Homo sapiens: one gene and its partner. The protein of the gene in region 1 purifies or fractionates together with the protein of each later gene. This does not show direct contact. Each region holds a gene or a part of one and is shown on either strand. Other genes may lie near its edges.

Region 1 (7,021 bases):
GCTGGGAGGAGGTTCATGAAAGAGGGAGTCAGTGTTTAATGGGTACAGAGTTATAATTTTTTTTTTTTTTGAGATGGAGTCTCGCTCTGTCACCTAGGCTGGAGTGCAGTGCAGCAATCCTGGCTCAGTGCAACCTCCACCCGCCCCCGCGTTCAAACAGTTCTCCTGCTTCAGGCTCCCTAGTGGCTGGGATCACAGGCATGTGCTACCACGCCCAGCTAATTTTTGTATTTTTAGTAGAGATGGGGTTTTGCCATGATGGCCAGGCTGGCCTCGAACTCCTGACCTCAAGTGATCTACCTGCCTCAGCCTCCCGAAGTGCTGGGATTACAGGCATGAGCCACTGGACCCGGCCCAGAGTTTCAATTTTGAGGAGTTACGGAGATGGAGAGTGGTGATGGTTGCACAACATTATTTAATACCAGTAAGCTATATAACTTAAAAATGGTTAAAATGGCAAATTTTATATTATGTGTATCTGACCACGACAACAACAACAACAAAAATTGAAGAAGAAAGAAAAATGTAGAAAGGCAGCTTGAGTTGGGAGAACTGGGCTTCTACAATTAAAGGATGTTTTGCATGGTCAAGAATGAAGGCCAGGCACAGTGGCTCACGCCTGTAATCCCAGCACTTTGGGAGGCTGAGGCGGGCGGAGACCAACCTGGCTAATACGGTGAAACCCGTCTCTATCAAAAATATGAAAATTAGCCGGATGTGGTGGTGCAGGCCTATAATCCCAGCTACTCAGGAGGCTGAGGCATGAGAATCACTTGAACCCCAGAGAAGGAGGTTGCAGTGAGCCAAGATCGTGTCACTGCACTTCAGCCTGGGTGACAGAGCAAGAATCCATCTCAGAAAAAAAAAAAAGAATAAAATCTTGCTCACGCCTGTAATCCCAGCACTTTAGGCCGAGGTGGGTGGAGCACCTGAGGTCAGGGGTTCGAGACCAGACTGACCAACATGGTAAAACTCCATCTCTACTAACAACAGAAAATTAGCCAGGCGTGTTGGCACATGCCTGTAATCCCAGCTACTTGGGAGGCTGAGGTAAGAGAATCACTTGAACTCGGGAGGCGGAGGTTGCAGTGAGCCAAGATCGTGCCATTGCACTCCAGCCTGGGCTACAAGGTGAAACTCCATCTCAAAAAAAAAAAAAAAAAAAAAAGGGCCAGGCACCAGTGGCTCATGTCTGTAATCCCAGCACTTTGGGAGGCCAAGGCTGGTGGATCATCTGAGATCAGGAGTTCAAGACCAGCCTGGGCAACATGGTGAAACCCCGTCTCTACTAAAAATATAAAAGATTAGCCGGGTGTGGTGGTGTTCGCCTGTAATCCCAGGTACTCAGGAGGCTGAGGCAGGAGAATCACTTGAACCCGGGAGGCGGAGGCTGCAGTGAGCCAAGATCATGCCACTGCCTTCCAGCCTGGGAGACAGAGTCAGACTCTGTCTCAAAAAAAAAAAAAGAAAAGAAAAAAAAGAAAAAAGAATGAGCCAGGCATGGTGGCTCATGCCTGTAATCCTAGCACTTTGGGAGGCCGAGGCGGATGGATTATGAGGTCAGCAGATCGAGACCATCCTGGCTAACATGGCGAAACCCCTGTCTCTACTAAAAATACAAAAAATTAGCCGGGCATCGTGGAGGGCATCTGTAGTCCCAGCTACTCAGGAGGCTGAGGCAGGAGAATGGCGTAAACCCGGGAGGCGGAGCTTGCAGTGAGCTGAGATTGTGCCACTGCACTCCAGCCTGGGCAACAATGTGAGACTCCGTCCCAAAAAAAAAAAAAAAAAAAAAAGAAATCTGGGGTGAGGGTGGCAAAGTGCCTCAGTGCTGGTTTCCAGGCTGCCACCTGTTTGATTTGTAGTTAAAATGACTTACTCAAATTTCTAGGGGAAAAAGCACGTTAGCTAGAGAGAGAGGGATGTAAGAGCACTGGGACAGGAGGCAAAGAAACCTGGACTCCAATCGAGGCCCTGCTTATTAGCCAAATGACCTTGGACAAATTACTCATCTCAGTTTCCTCCTCTGTTAGGACAGGATAATAGGTCAGATGTAAGGATTCAATGACATTTAAGACAGTGCTCCAAAAATGCTAGCTATAGTTATCATTATTGTAAAATGCCCACATTTCCAGACCAAGTTTCCACAACCTCGAAATCCCAACACCTGTGCACCTGTAGAAGCAAGAAAGGCATTGGCCGGGCACAGTGGCTCACGCCTGTAATCCCAGCAGTTTGGGAGGCCGAGGCGGGTGGATCACTTGAGGTCAGGAGTTCAAGACTAGCCTGGCGAACATGGTGAAACTCCATCTCTACTAAAAATACAAAAAATTACCCAGGCATGGTGGCGGGCACCTGTAATCCCAGCTACTCAGGAGGCTGAGGCAGGAGAATTGCTTGAACCCAGGAGACAGAGGTTGCAGTGTGCCGAGGTTGCACCACTGCACTTCTGGGCGACAGAGTGAGACTCCGCCTCAACAAAAAAAAAAAAAGAAAGAAAGGAATGTCAATCCACCAGCTATGGACTTTTTCCATATGAGAAAGAGACCTCTTGAAAATCAGGTCTCTACTAGGACAGAGACCCCCAAATATCCTTCTAAGATACCTGGAAGTCAGCCTTTAAAATCTGAGAATTATGTTCCTGACATGGAATAAACTATCACTGAATAAAAACCTTGGTTTAGGCCAGGCGCAGTGGCTCACACCTGTAAACCTAGCACTTTGGGAGGCCCTGGCAGGCGGATCATGAGGTCAGGAGTTCGAGACCAGCCTGGCCAATATGATGAAAGCCAGTCTCTACCAAAAATATAAAAGATTAGCAGGGTGAGGTGGCACACACCTGTAGTACCAGCTACTTGGGAGGCTGAAGCAGGAGAATCACTTGAATCCGGGAGGCAGAGGTTGCAGTGAGCCGAGATTGCACCATTGTACTCTAGCCTGGGCAACGAAGTGAGACTCCACCTCAAAAAAAAAACAAAAAACAAAACAAAACAAAAAAAAACCCTTTGTTTAAATCCCAAGCCCCTCCTCTTGCTCCTTCCCCAAAGTTCACTGATTCAGGCTCCACCACTCTTTCCTAAAACTGTCCTATTTACATTTAGTCACTCATATTAGGCTTCTAAAATTGTACAGGATTTCTGCCAGCTCATTAGTTCCATTATTTGGCAAAAGAGAGGAAGGTCCAGGTAGGACCTAGCCCAAGATCTAGCAAAGTTGTCAAAGCATTATTACAAATTAAGGGTTCAATTTTTTTTTTTTTTTTTTGAGACACAGTTTCACTCTTGTTGCCCAGGCTGAAGCGCAGTGGTGTAATCTCGGCTCACTGCAACCTCTGCCTCTCGGGTTCAAGCCATTCTCCTGCCTCAGCCTCCCTAGTAGCTGGGATGACAGGCACCTGCCACCACGCCTGACTAATTTTTTGTATTTTTAGTAGAGACGGAGTTTCACTGTGTGTTAGCCAGGCTGGTCTTGAACTCCTGACTTCAGGTGATCCATCCGACTTGGCCTCCCAAAGTGCTGGGATTACAGGCGTGAGCCACAGTGCCTGTCTCAATTTTCATTAGGTTACCCTATAGTCAATAGCCTGTAAGGGGCAGTCACTGGCAAAGATGGATTAGACAAAGACATCACCCTCCTTTTCTCTAGGCTCATAATCCAATCAAGGATCTTGACTAAGCATACATTTTGGTTTAAAGAATGTTTATCAAGAAAAATGTCCCAGCTTAACCAACATAGTGAAACCTTGTCTCTACTAAAACTACAAAAAATTAGTTGGGCATGGTGGTGCGCACCTATAATCCCAGCTACTCAGGAGGCTGAGGCACAAGAATCGCTTGAATTCAGGATGCACAGGTTGCAGTAAGCCAAGACTGCGCCACTACACTCCAGCCTAGGCAACAGAGCAAGACCCTTTCTCAAAATAAATAAATAAATAAAATTAATAAAAAGACTTTATCAAGAAAAATGTAAACATCCTCCCTATTATTTCTTAGGAAGATGATGAAAGAAGAAAACTCCAGAGGTTAAATATACCTTTAAGTCCTGACTTCCAAGCCCCCTCAGCAACTGTCTTTGACAATAATCAGGTGCTCTCAAAGAACTGTTGGTTTTATTCATTTGTTAAGTTATTTGAAATACAGATTTCTTATCATTATCCTTAACAATTCCTTGTTCTGGGTTTTGTGGCTGTGTGTTCCTAGAAGAGCACTTGGAAGCAATGGGGTCTCGTGCTGTCACCCAGCTGTAGTGCAGTGGTACAATCCTAGCTCACTGCAGACTCTGAACTCCCTCGTCAGCCTCCCAAGGAGCTGGGACTACAAGCACGCACCACCATGCCTGACTACTTTTTTGTTTTTGGTGGGGGAGTAGAGACAGGAATCTCACTTTGTTGCCCAGGCTGGTCTTGAACTCCTGGCTTCAAGCAATCCTCCCACTCTGGCCTCCCAAAGTGTTGGGATTACAGGCGTAAGCCACTGCACCCACCCAACCACGAGTAATTGTCAAATGGTATTTGCACTTAGGATACACTTTCAAACTTCAGAAAGGAAGTTTAAGCACCTTTACAATCCAGGAAGACATACCAGGCAACTGATTCCCACAGATACAGGAGATCTTGGGGAAGGGGACTAAAAACATTACATCTCATACTTTCCCCAAATCCCAGCCAAAGGCAAACAACCTGCTTGCTTCCTCTTTAAATTTCATGCCACCTGCCCTGCTAATTCAAACCAAAAAACAAAGCTGTGGTATGGAGGAAATGAAGTCCCTTTTTAAGTATACATTAGATAAGAGAACTGACAAGTAAATACGGGGTATATAAGGTACAGACTCCTTCTTGGTAAGGCAGAGAAGTCACAAACATTGAATGGAGAACTCAGGAAGACTTCTTTGAGGATTTCAGGTAGTTCTGAATGAAATACAGCATGGAACTGGAAGAAGACATGGAAGCAAGAAGAACGCTGAAGTTGGGTTGAGAACAAGCTGGCTGCCTCAGCTAGAAAAAAAGATAATGGCAGAAGTGACTTGGACAAGGGAATAACTGGCAGGCTGCCCAAGGGAGCACATGAAAGAAATCAGATCTGCTGCAACAAGCTACCACAGGCAATGGGGTTTCTAAGCAAGGTAGCGACCAAGATTCAGCCAGGGTGGACATTGCAGATCATCAGCCCCTCATTTTACAAATGGGGAGAAGCAGGCCCATAGCATTAAGTGACTTGCCTGAGGTCTCACAGTAAATGGAAGAGCTAGGACTAGAGCCAAATCCAGATCAAATCCGTTACTGAATAGGATCTGACACTCATGTGAGGAATAGGGGTTGGAGGAGGACAGGGACACAAAATAGTCTAGTCATTCAGGTTTGTCCTGATTAGGGCTGGCAACAGGATCACGTGGAAGAGGGCCAGACAGGTGACAGCCAGGGAAATAGGTACAGATGATCCAACACACTTAGAAAGGAAAAACACTTTCAGAGGTAGTCTTTGTCTCCAAAAAAATTTTTTGAAAAAAGGAAAAACCCACTTGAGACTTAGAATAGATTAGACATGTGGGTACAAAAGGAGAAAGATCATCATAAAGCATGATCACCATCAAAGAATATCATCTTCTCCCCAGCATTTGTCTTTCTGGAGCACCCATTTAGAGAAAGCCAGAAGCTTCCATTCGAGGTCGGGGAACATAGCTTTATCCTGGCTTTTCCTGGCCCATTTCCAGAACCCAGAAAACCAAGAAGGACTCTTTGGAAATTCCAACACCTGTGACCCACTGATTTGGGGTATCACAGACTCCCTACTCATGGTAGGATGAGGAACCAGACAGACAAGCTGGCTATGCAGTATTTATTAGAATGATTCTATATCAATAATTATGTTCACATTCAAGTAAGAAATATGTAACCATTTAAATTTGGCAATAGCCAGGCATGGCAGCTCACACCTATAATCCCAACACTTTGGGAAGCTAAGGTGGAGGACTGCTTGAGCCCAGAAGTTCAAGACCAACCTGGGCAAAATGGCAAGATCTCATCTCTACAAAAAATTTAAAATTAGCCAGGTGTGGTGGCACGTGCCAGTGGTCCCTGAAACTCAAGAGGCTGAGGGGAGGATCGCTTGAGCCCAGAAGGTTGAGGCTGCAGTAAGCCGTGATCACACCACTGCACTCCAGCTTGGGTGACAGAATGAGACCCTGTCCCCACCCAAAATATATATATATACACACAGAAACCAAACTCCTGGAGAAGTTTTGGCCTTTTTTTTTTTTTTTTTTTTGGAGACAGAGTCTCACTCTGTGGCCCAGGCTGGAGTGCAGTGGTGCAATTTTGGCTCACTGCAACCTCCGCCTCCCGGGTTCAAGCAAGTATTCTGCCTCAGCCTCCCATGTAGCTGGGATTACAGGTGCCTGCCACCACACCCAGGTAATTTTTCTATTTTTAGTAGAGACAGGGTTTCACTGTGTTAGCCAGACTGGTCTCGAACTCCTGACCTCGTGATCTGCCCGCCTCAGCTCCCAAAGTGCTGGGATTACAAGCATGAGCCACCGTGCCCAGCCAGTTTTGGCCAATATTTAAAAAGCTATGTGCTAGAATAACTAATTGAGTATAACTAATAAAGGGGACTATGGCCTTGTACAAACTTTTAAGGGATGTGTGTCTGGATAAAGATAAAATAAAAAAATATAAGGCTAACCACCACCTTCCTATTTTCACAGAGAAACTTTGTCTTCGTGTATGAAACCTCACTACTAAAAGTGTAGTTCAGTAACATCAGCATCACCTGCAAATCAGAAATGCATTCAGGTCCCATCCTAGATCTACCAAATCAGAATCAGCATTTCAACAAGACCCCTGGGTGACTTACATGCACATTCAAGTTTGAGAAGCACTGGTGTAGAATACTTTAAGGGTGCACTGTACGGCAGTACACAGATAAAGTATCAAGCAGCCAAAGAAAGAGACAAAGTATCTGTTCACTTTCAGTATACTATATTTTATTAGGTACTGCTCAGACAGACCTCCAGTGATTTTTAT
Region 2 (7,383 bases), on another chromosome or scaffold:
AAGTAAGAGGAAGTAGGTAAAGTCCCTGACACACTACAGGAGCTTAAGAAATGGGATTTGCTATGGTTTTGGCACTGGGGCCCGAGAGACCCAAGGGAACTGGCAGAGAAGCTGGGCCTCCTGGGCCCGTGGATGGGAAGGGATCCGGACCTTCTGCACATGGTTGATCTCATCATGCTTGCGCTTTTGGTTGCGAGTGATCTTGCGCTCAGGCTGCTCTGCGAGCTCGCTCAGGTACTTCTCTGAGTTCTTCTGTACAGCATCCTTCACTGTCTTGGTCAGCGCCAGCCGGTTCTTGTCTACCCACTCGTCCAGCCGCCGGTTAACTGTAAGTATGGGCCATAAGAGTGCTGCCAGGGCAGCCAACTCCCTGCACCCACGCCCAGATGTGCCAAGCCACTCACAGCCCACGTAGTGTACATAGAATTCCTCTCGGCCCTCCTGGTCGTTCACTCGAGACTGGATCACTTCAGCAGAATCTGTGATGGAAAAAGGCTAGGGTCATCAGGAAGGTAAGGCTGGAACAAAAGGAATCCTGCACACTGAGAAGCAGTTTCCAGAGTTCAGGGCCACACATCAGCTAACCTCACTGGTCCACCTCTGCCATTCTACTCAATCACTGCCACAACTGTGAGGTGGATCAGGTTGAGGCTGTTATTCTCATTTTACGAATGAGAAAATAACTGGCTGGGTGTGTGGCTCACACCTGTAATCCCAGTACTTCTGGAGGCCGAGATGGGCAGATCACTTGAGGCCAGGAGTTTGAGACCAGCCTGGTCAACATGGCAAAACCCCATCTGTACCAAAAAGACGAAAAAAAAAAAAGCCAGGCATGGTGGCACACACCTGTAATCCCAACTACTCGGGAGGCTGAGGCAGGAAAATTGCTTGAACCTGGGAGGCAAGGCTGAGGCAGGAGAATTGCTTGAACCCGGGAGGCAGAGGTTGCAGTGAGCCGAGATTGTACCACTGCACTGTGGCCTGGGTGACAAGAGCAAGACTCTGTCTCAAAAAAAAGAACCCCAAAAAACAGAACAAAACTGAGGCTTACCTAGGGTCACAGATTTGAAAAGTGGTAAGAGCTAATACTTAACTGAATTTAAGTCTGACTCTAAATTCAATGCTCATTTTACCACATACCCGCAGTTGTTCATTTGTTCAGGGATCATGAGTGCTGGCTCTGGATTAAGATAACCTACATTAATGTATAATTCCAGGGCTGGGCATCGTGGCTCACGCCTGTAATCCCAGCACTTTGGGAGGCCGAGGTGGGTGAATCACGAGGTTAAGAGGTCAAAACCATCCTGGCCAACATGGTGAAACTTCGTCTCTACTAAAAATACAAAAATTAGCTGGGTGTGGTGGCGCACAACTGTAGTCCCAGCTACTCAGGAGGTTGAGGCAGGAGAATCGCTTGAATCCGGGAGGCAGAGATCGCAGTGAGCCAAGATGGCGCCACTGCACTCCAGCCTGGCAACAGAGAGCGATTCCATCTCAAACAAACAAACAAAAAAAAATACACAAAATTCCAGCTCCCTACTTCCTAGCTATGTGTAACTGAGCAAGTTATTCCATCTTTCTGAGCCTCAGTCTCTTCATCTGTGAAAAGGGATAACAGCTGGGCACAGTGGCTCATGCCAGTAATCCCAACACTCTGAGAGGGTGAGGTGGGAGGATCACTTGAGCCTAGAAGGTCTAGGCTTCAGTGAGCTGTCATCGTGCCACGGCAATCCCACCTGGGTGACAGAGCGAGATCCTGTCTCAAAAAAAAAAAAAAAAAAAAAGACAAAAGGGATAATAGTACCAACCTTAGAAGGTGAATTAATGCCTCCAAAATTTTTAGCAGCGCACCTGACAATTAGCAGAGCATTCAATAAATGAGTAAGGCAACCACTACGTGTCTGGCCCTATGCTGTGTTGTTGCCGGGTACAGAGGACACAGTGATGAATCACAAGAAGTGCTGCCCTCCAGAAGTTCCCAGTATGATGGAGGAAGACAGAGAGAGAAAATTACAACATAATGTTACAAAAACTATGACTGAGGTAGGAAAAAAATGTTGCAGGAACATAGAGAAGGGAACCACTCACTTTGCCTGAAGGGGAATCAAGGATGACATCACAAAGGATATGAAGCTAAGAGGATGAGTAGGAGCTAGGCAGGCAAACAAGGAGAAAGGGAAGAAAAAGCATTCCAAGCAAAGGGCACAGGTGGTAAAGGGCGTGTGGTCTTCAGAGGGCACAGTGTGTTCTGGCCTGGCAATGCCCTTTCCTAGTGTTGGCTAGAAACTGGAGAGGTCACAAAAATGAATGCCACCCTAAGGAGTTTGGGGTTAATTTTGAAAATGAGAGAAGGCAGCAGAACTTTAGGAAAGGGAAGCCTGTTGTTTCTGGAAGGTCTTCTCTCTGCGGATGGCTGCCAGGGACAAATGGAAAAAGAAGACGCAGAGACAAGAGAGGGTGAGGAAGCAGCGTTAGCAAGAAAAAGGAATGAAGCCTAAGACTGGGCAAGGAAGTGGAATGGGAACAATCCTGGTGAAGGCCTGAGCGGTGGGTTTGTAGGCGTCGCTCGGCATAATTCAAGGTCAACAGCCTCCCACAACCCGGCTGGTTTCTCAGCGCCCGGAACGCGGCGTTCTTTCCTCAAGCCCCGCCCCTCCTCCTCTCCACTCCCAGCCCCCGGATCTTGGCCTCACTGACAGCCTGTCCTCAGGCCCCGCCCCACCCCCTGGCCCTGAGCTCCGCCCCGCCCCCAGCCCTGGGCCCCGCCCTCACGCCAGGTGCTATCCGGTCGCCGGCACAGGTACGTTTCTCCGATCTCCACCGTGACTTCCGGCTCGCCGCGCGCCGGGGTCGGCGGAGAGACGCGGCCCGGGGATGGGGCGGTCCCCTCAGCGGCCGCATTCTCCCCGGGCCCGGGCTCGCCCTCCCCCGCGACCCCTGAAGTCCCCGCCGCAACCGCCGCAGCAGCTCCCTGTGCCGCCATCGCGGGAAGGGAAGTGACGCCAGAATCGGACGCCACGCAGTTCTTTTGGCTCCGGGTCAGCAGTGCGTGGGGCGGGCTCCTCAAGGTTTGAGGGCGGGGTCTGTGATGTAGCAGGAGCCGATTGGCTTCTGTGGCCGTCCCCGCGGCCCCGCGAGTTGGATGTTGAGTGTGCGGCAGTCTTGGAGCTCCTGGTTTTCCGTGCGGACCTGTGGCTGCAGCCTATGGGTGAGGAGAGGAGACAGACTTACCTCATGCGATGACTCAACTCAACCTTTTTTTAATTTATTTATTTATTTATTTATTTATTTATTTTGAGACGGAATCATGCTCTGTCGCCCAGGCTGGAGTGCAGAGGCGCGATCTCGGCTCACTGCAACCTCCGCCTCCGGGTTCAAGCGATTCCTCTGCCTCAGCCTCCCGGGTAGCTGGGACTGCAGGCGCGCGCCACCACGCCCATCTAATTTTTGTATTTTTAGTAGAGACGGGGTTTCACCATGTTGTCCAGGATAGTCTTGATCTCTTGACCTCGTGATCTGCCAGCCTCAACCTCCCAAAGTGCTGGGATTATAGGCGTGAGCCACCGTGCCCGGCCAGCTGAACCTTTTTAAAGGCCCTGGTACCTGCGGAAGCCAAGATGTGCCAATTTTCAGCGGGCGCTGCCCCCACTTTAACAGGGCAGAGCCAGAGCGGCCGCCCTGGTGGCCTGGAGCCGCACACTCGCGCTGGCCTAATGTCGCTCCCCGCCCCCCCCCCTTTTTTTTTTTTGAGATGGAGTCTCGCTCTGTCGCCCAGGCTGGAGTGCAGTGACGCGATCTCGGCTCACTGCAGCCTCCGCCTCCCGGGTTCAAGCGATTCTCCTGCCTCAGCCTCCTGAATAGCTGGGATTACAATCGCGCGCCACCACGCCCGGCTATTTTTTGTATTTTTAGTAGAGAGAGGGCTTCACCCTGTTGGCCAGGCTGGTCTCGAACTCCTGACCTCAGGTGATCCGCCCGCCTCGGCCTCCCAAAGTGCTAGGGTTACAGGCGTGAGCCACCGTGCCCAGCCAGTGCCCCATTTTTGAAGGTTGAAGAGACTACTTCCCCTATTTGGGATACAGTTGGTGCGGGGAAAGCAGAACGGGTGTGTCCAGGGACAGGCCATAATTCACCCTCACAGGATAAAGTCTAAAGAAAGGACGAGTTGGGCGGGGCGTGGTGGCTCACGCCTGTAATCTCAGCACTTTGAGAGGCCGAGGCGGGCGGAGATCGAGACCATCCTGGCTAACACCGTGAAACTCCGTCTCTACTAAAAATACAAAATTTAGCCGGGCGTGGTGGCACGCACCTGTAGTCCCAGCTACTCGGGAGGCTGAGGCAGGAGAATCGCTTGAACCCGGGAGGCGGAGGTTGCAGTGAGCCGAGATCCCGCCATTGCACTCCAGCCTGGGGACCAAGAGCCAGACTCCATCTCAAAAAAAATAAAAAGGCCGGGTGCGGTGGTTCACGCCTGTAATCCCAGCACTTTGGGAGGCCTAGGCGGGTGGATCACGAGGTCAGAAGATCGAGACTATTCTGGCTAACACGATGAAACTCCGTCTCTACTAAAAAAAAATACAAAACAATTAGCCGGGCGTGGTGGCGGGCCCCTGTAGTCCCAGCTACTCGGGAGGCTGAGGCAGGAGAATGGTGTGAACCCGGGAGGTGGAGCTTGCAGTGAGCTGAGATCACGCCACTGCACTGAGGGTTCTGTGAGAGTCAGTAAAGGTTAAAGCCATTTATATGTGTATGGTCCAACCATACACAATCGGCCCTCCATATCCGCATGTCCCACCTTTGGAGATTGAACGAAGAGCGGGTTGAAAATACAGTGTTGAGGTATGGTGGCTCACACCTGTAATCTCGCACTTCAGGAATCCAAGCAGGAGGATCGCTTCAGGCCAGGAGTTCAAGACCAGCCTGGGCAGCATAGAGACCTCCTTTCTACTAAAAATTTGGGGGAAAAAAAAAATTAGCTGGGCCTCGGGGCCCGCACCTGTAGTCCCACCTACTCAGGAGGCTGAGGCAGAGGGATCGCTTAAACCCAGGAGGTCGAGGCTGAGTGAGCTATAATCCCTCCACTGCACTCCAGCTTGGGTGACAGAGACCCTGTCTCAAAAAAAAAGGGGGGAAAGAAAAGGAGGCTGGGCGCAGTGGCTCACTCCTGTAATCCCACCACTTTGGGAGGCCGAGGCAGGCAGATCACCTGAGGTCGGGAGTTCGAGACCAGCCTGACCAACATGGAGAAACCCCATCTCTACTAAAAATACAAAATTAGCCAGGCGTGGTGGCCGCATGCCTGTAATCCCAGCTACTCGGGAGGCTGAGGCAGGAGAACCGCTTGAACCTGGGAGGCAGAGGTTGTGGTGAGCTGAGATTGTGCCATTGCACTCCAGCCTGGGCAACAAGAGTGAAACTCTGCCTCAAAAAAAAAAAAAAAAAGACTGGGCGCGGTGGCTCACACCTGTAATCCCAGCACTTTGGGAGGCCGAAGCAGGTGGATTACTTGAGGTCAGGAGTTCAAAACCAGCTTGGCCCACATTGTGAAACCCCGTCTCTACTGAAAATACAAAACAGTCAGGGGTGGTGGCGTGTGCCTGTAATCCCAGCTACTTGGGAGGCTGAGGCAGGAGAACTGCTTGAACCCAGGAGGTGGAGGTTGCAGTGAGCCGAGATCGCGCCACTGCACTCCAACCTGGCCGACACAACAAGACTCCATCTCAAAAAAGAAAAAGAAAAAAGAGGGAGGAAGGGAGGAAAAGAAAAGGAAAGGAAAGGAAATATTGTAAGGATGCAGAACCCACAGATCTGAAGAGCTGACTTCATATCTGCTGTTTGGCAGGGCCAACTGTAGGACTTGAGCGCCTGCAGATTTCGGTATTCACAGGCGGTCCTGGAACCAATCCCCAGCAGTTAAGCATGTATAACTATCAATCATATAACTATGTAACGGTTGAACTATCCGTCTTAGCAATATACAAGTGTATTGCAAAGTGCCAGACCGGGTAGGTACTCAGTAAACATTCCCTTTGGCTATTCTCTGAATCTTGTTTGATTTATAATGTGGTTATTGGGCTTGGAAACAATTCTGAGAGGAGTGGAATGCTCAGGGCCTGCGGATGGGTCTCTCAGAGGTTACAAATCAAGAAACATCCGACAGGCATGGTGGCTCATGCCTGTAATCCTGGCACTTTGGGAGGCTGAGGTGGATGGATCACGAGGTTGGGAGTTCGAGACCAGCCTGGCCAACGTGGTGAAACCCCATCTCTACTAAAAATAGAAAAATTAGCTGGGTGTGGTGGCACGCGCCTGTAATCCCAGCTACTCGGGAGGCTGAGGCAGGAGAATCGCTTGAACCTGGGGTTGGGGGGGGGTGGGGCGGAGGTTGCAGTGAGCGAAGATCCAGCCACTGCACTCCAGCCTGAGCAACAGATTGAGACTCCGTTTAAAAAAACAAAACGAAACAAAACAAACAAAAAAACAATGTAGGTGCTCCACCCAGATCCTCTGGGAGTTCTTGCTGTTTCTGTGTGCCCAGATTACCTTTGATGTGCTTTCAAAGACCCACACCAGCACCTGAGGCTCTTCTTAAAAAACCATCCTTAGGTTAATAGAGCTGTTCACTTTCCCAACTGACTTTAACCAGTGACTGCCAAGTGGAGAAATTAATCAGTAACTCTGAGGTTTAGCTCTCTTACCTTCAACCCTGAGGCATAATTGACTGGTTCTGGGCTTTTGCCTGAGGTCACATCCTTGCTTGGCTTCCTCCCCTTCCCCTTCCTACTTCCCCTACTCTGTTCTGGGAGCACTTTCTTAAGAAATCACGTGGACATGAATCCTCTCAGGGACTCCAACCAGAAACATCCCTTCCCAGCTCAAAACCCACTCATGGGCCAGCTGCAGTGGCTCATGCCTGTAACCCCACCACTTTGGGAGGCTGGGGTGGAAGGATCATTTGAGCCCAGAAGTTCAAGTCCAGCCCGGGGCAACATAGGGCTTTGTAGAAACCCTGTTTCTACAAAAAATTTTAAAATTTAGCCTGGCATGATGGTCCAAGCTACTCAGAAGGCTGAGGTGGGAGAATCTCTTGATCCCAGGAGTTCAAGGCTGCAGTGAACTCTGCAGCCACCATATTCCAGCCTGGGCAACAGAGCAAGACCCCATTTCTAAATAAATAAAAACTCACCCATGGATCCCTATGGCTCAAGATAAATCCCATGTTTCAGGGCCCTGGCCTCTGACTGCTGCCTGCCTCTCCAGCCTCAGCACCCTGCCTTGCAGCTGGCGGGATTTTTCAGTCTAGCAAGTCACTGTGGTTTCCTAGCCCCTGCCATTTGGCTTCCACATACAACTTCCCCTCCATCCCCGTGAAGGGTAGGAGAT

Evidence for each region. Proteins that work in one complex are often made in the same cells at the same time.
Region 2: the proteins of PHF20 (region 1) and KAT8 purify together in Homo sapiens (affinity purification with mass spectrometry; 4 studies listed by BioGRID and IntAct, with this or other methods). This does not show direct contact.

What each region holds. Positions count from the first base shown.
Region 1 is NC_000020.11:35,774,997-35,782,017, reverse strand, and holds part of PHF20 (PHD finger protein 20), read right to left. Parts: intron 1-7,021. UniProt on the Homo sapiens protein: Methyllysine-binding protein, component of the MOF histone acetyltransferase protein complex.
Region 2 is NC_000016.10:31,113,282-31,120,664, reverse strand, and holds the start of KAT8 (histone acetyltransferase KAT8), read right to left. Parts: upstream 3,002-7,383; 5' UTR 2,984-3,001; coding exon 2,773-2,983; intron 2,607-2,772; exon of another isoform or gene 1,809-2,606; intron 480-1,808; coding exon 405-479; intron 327-404; coding exon 151-326; intron 1-150.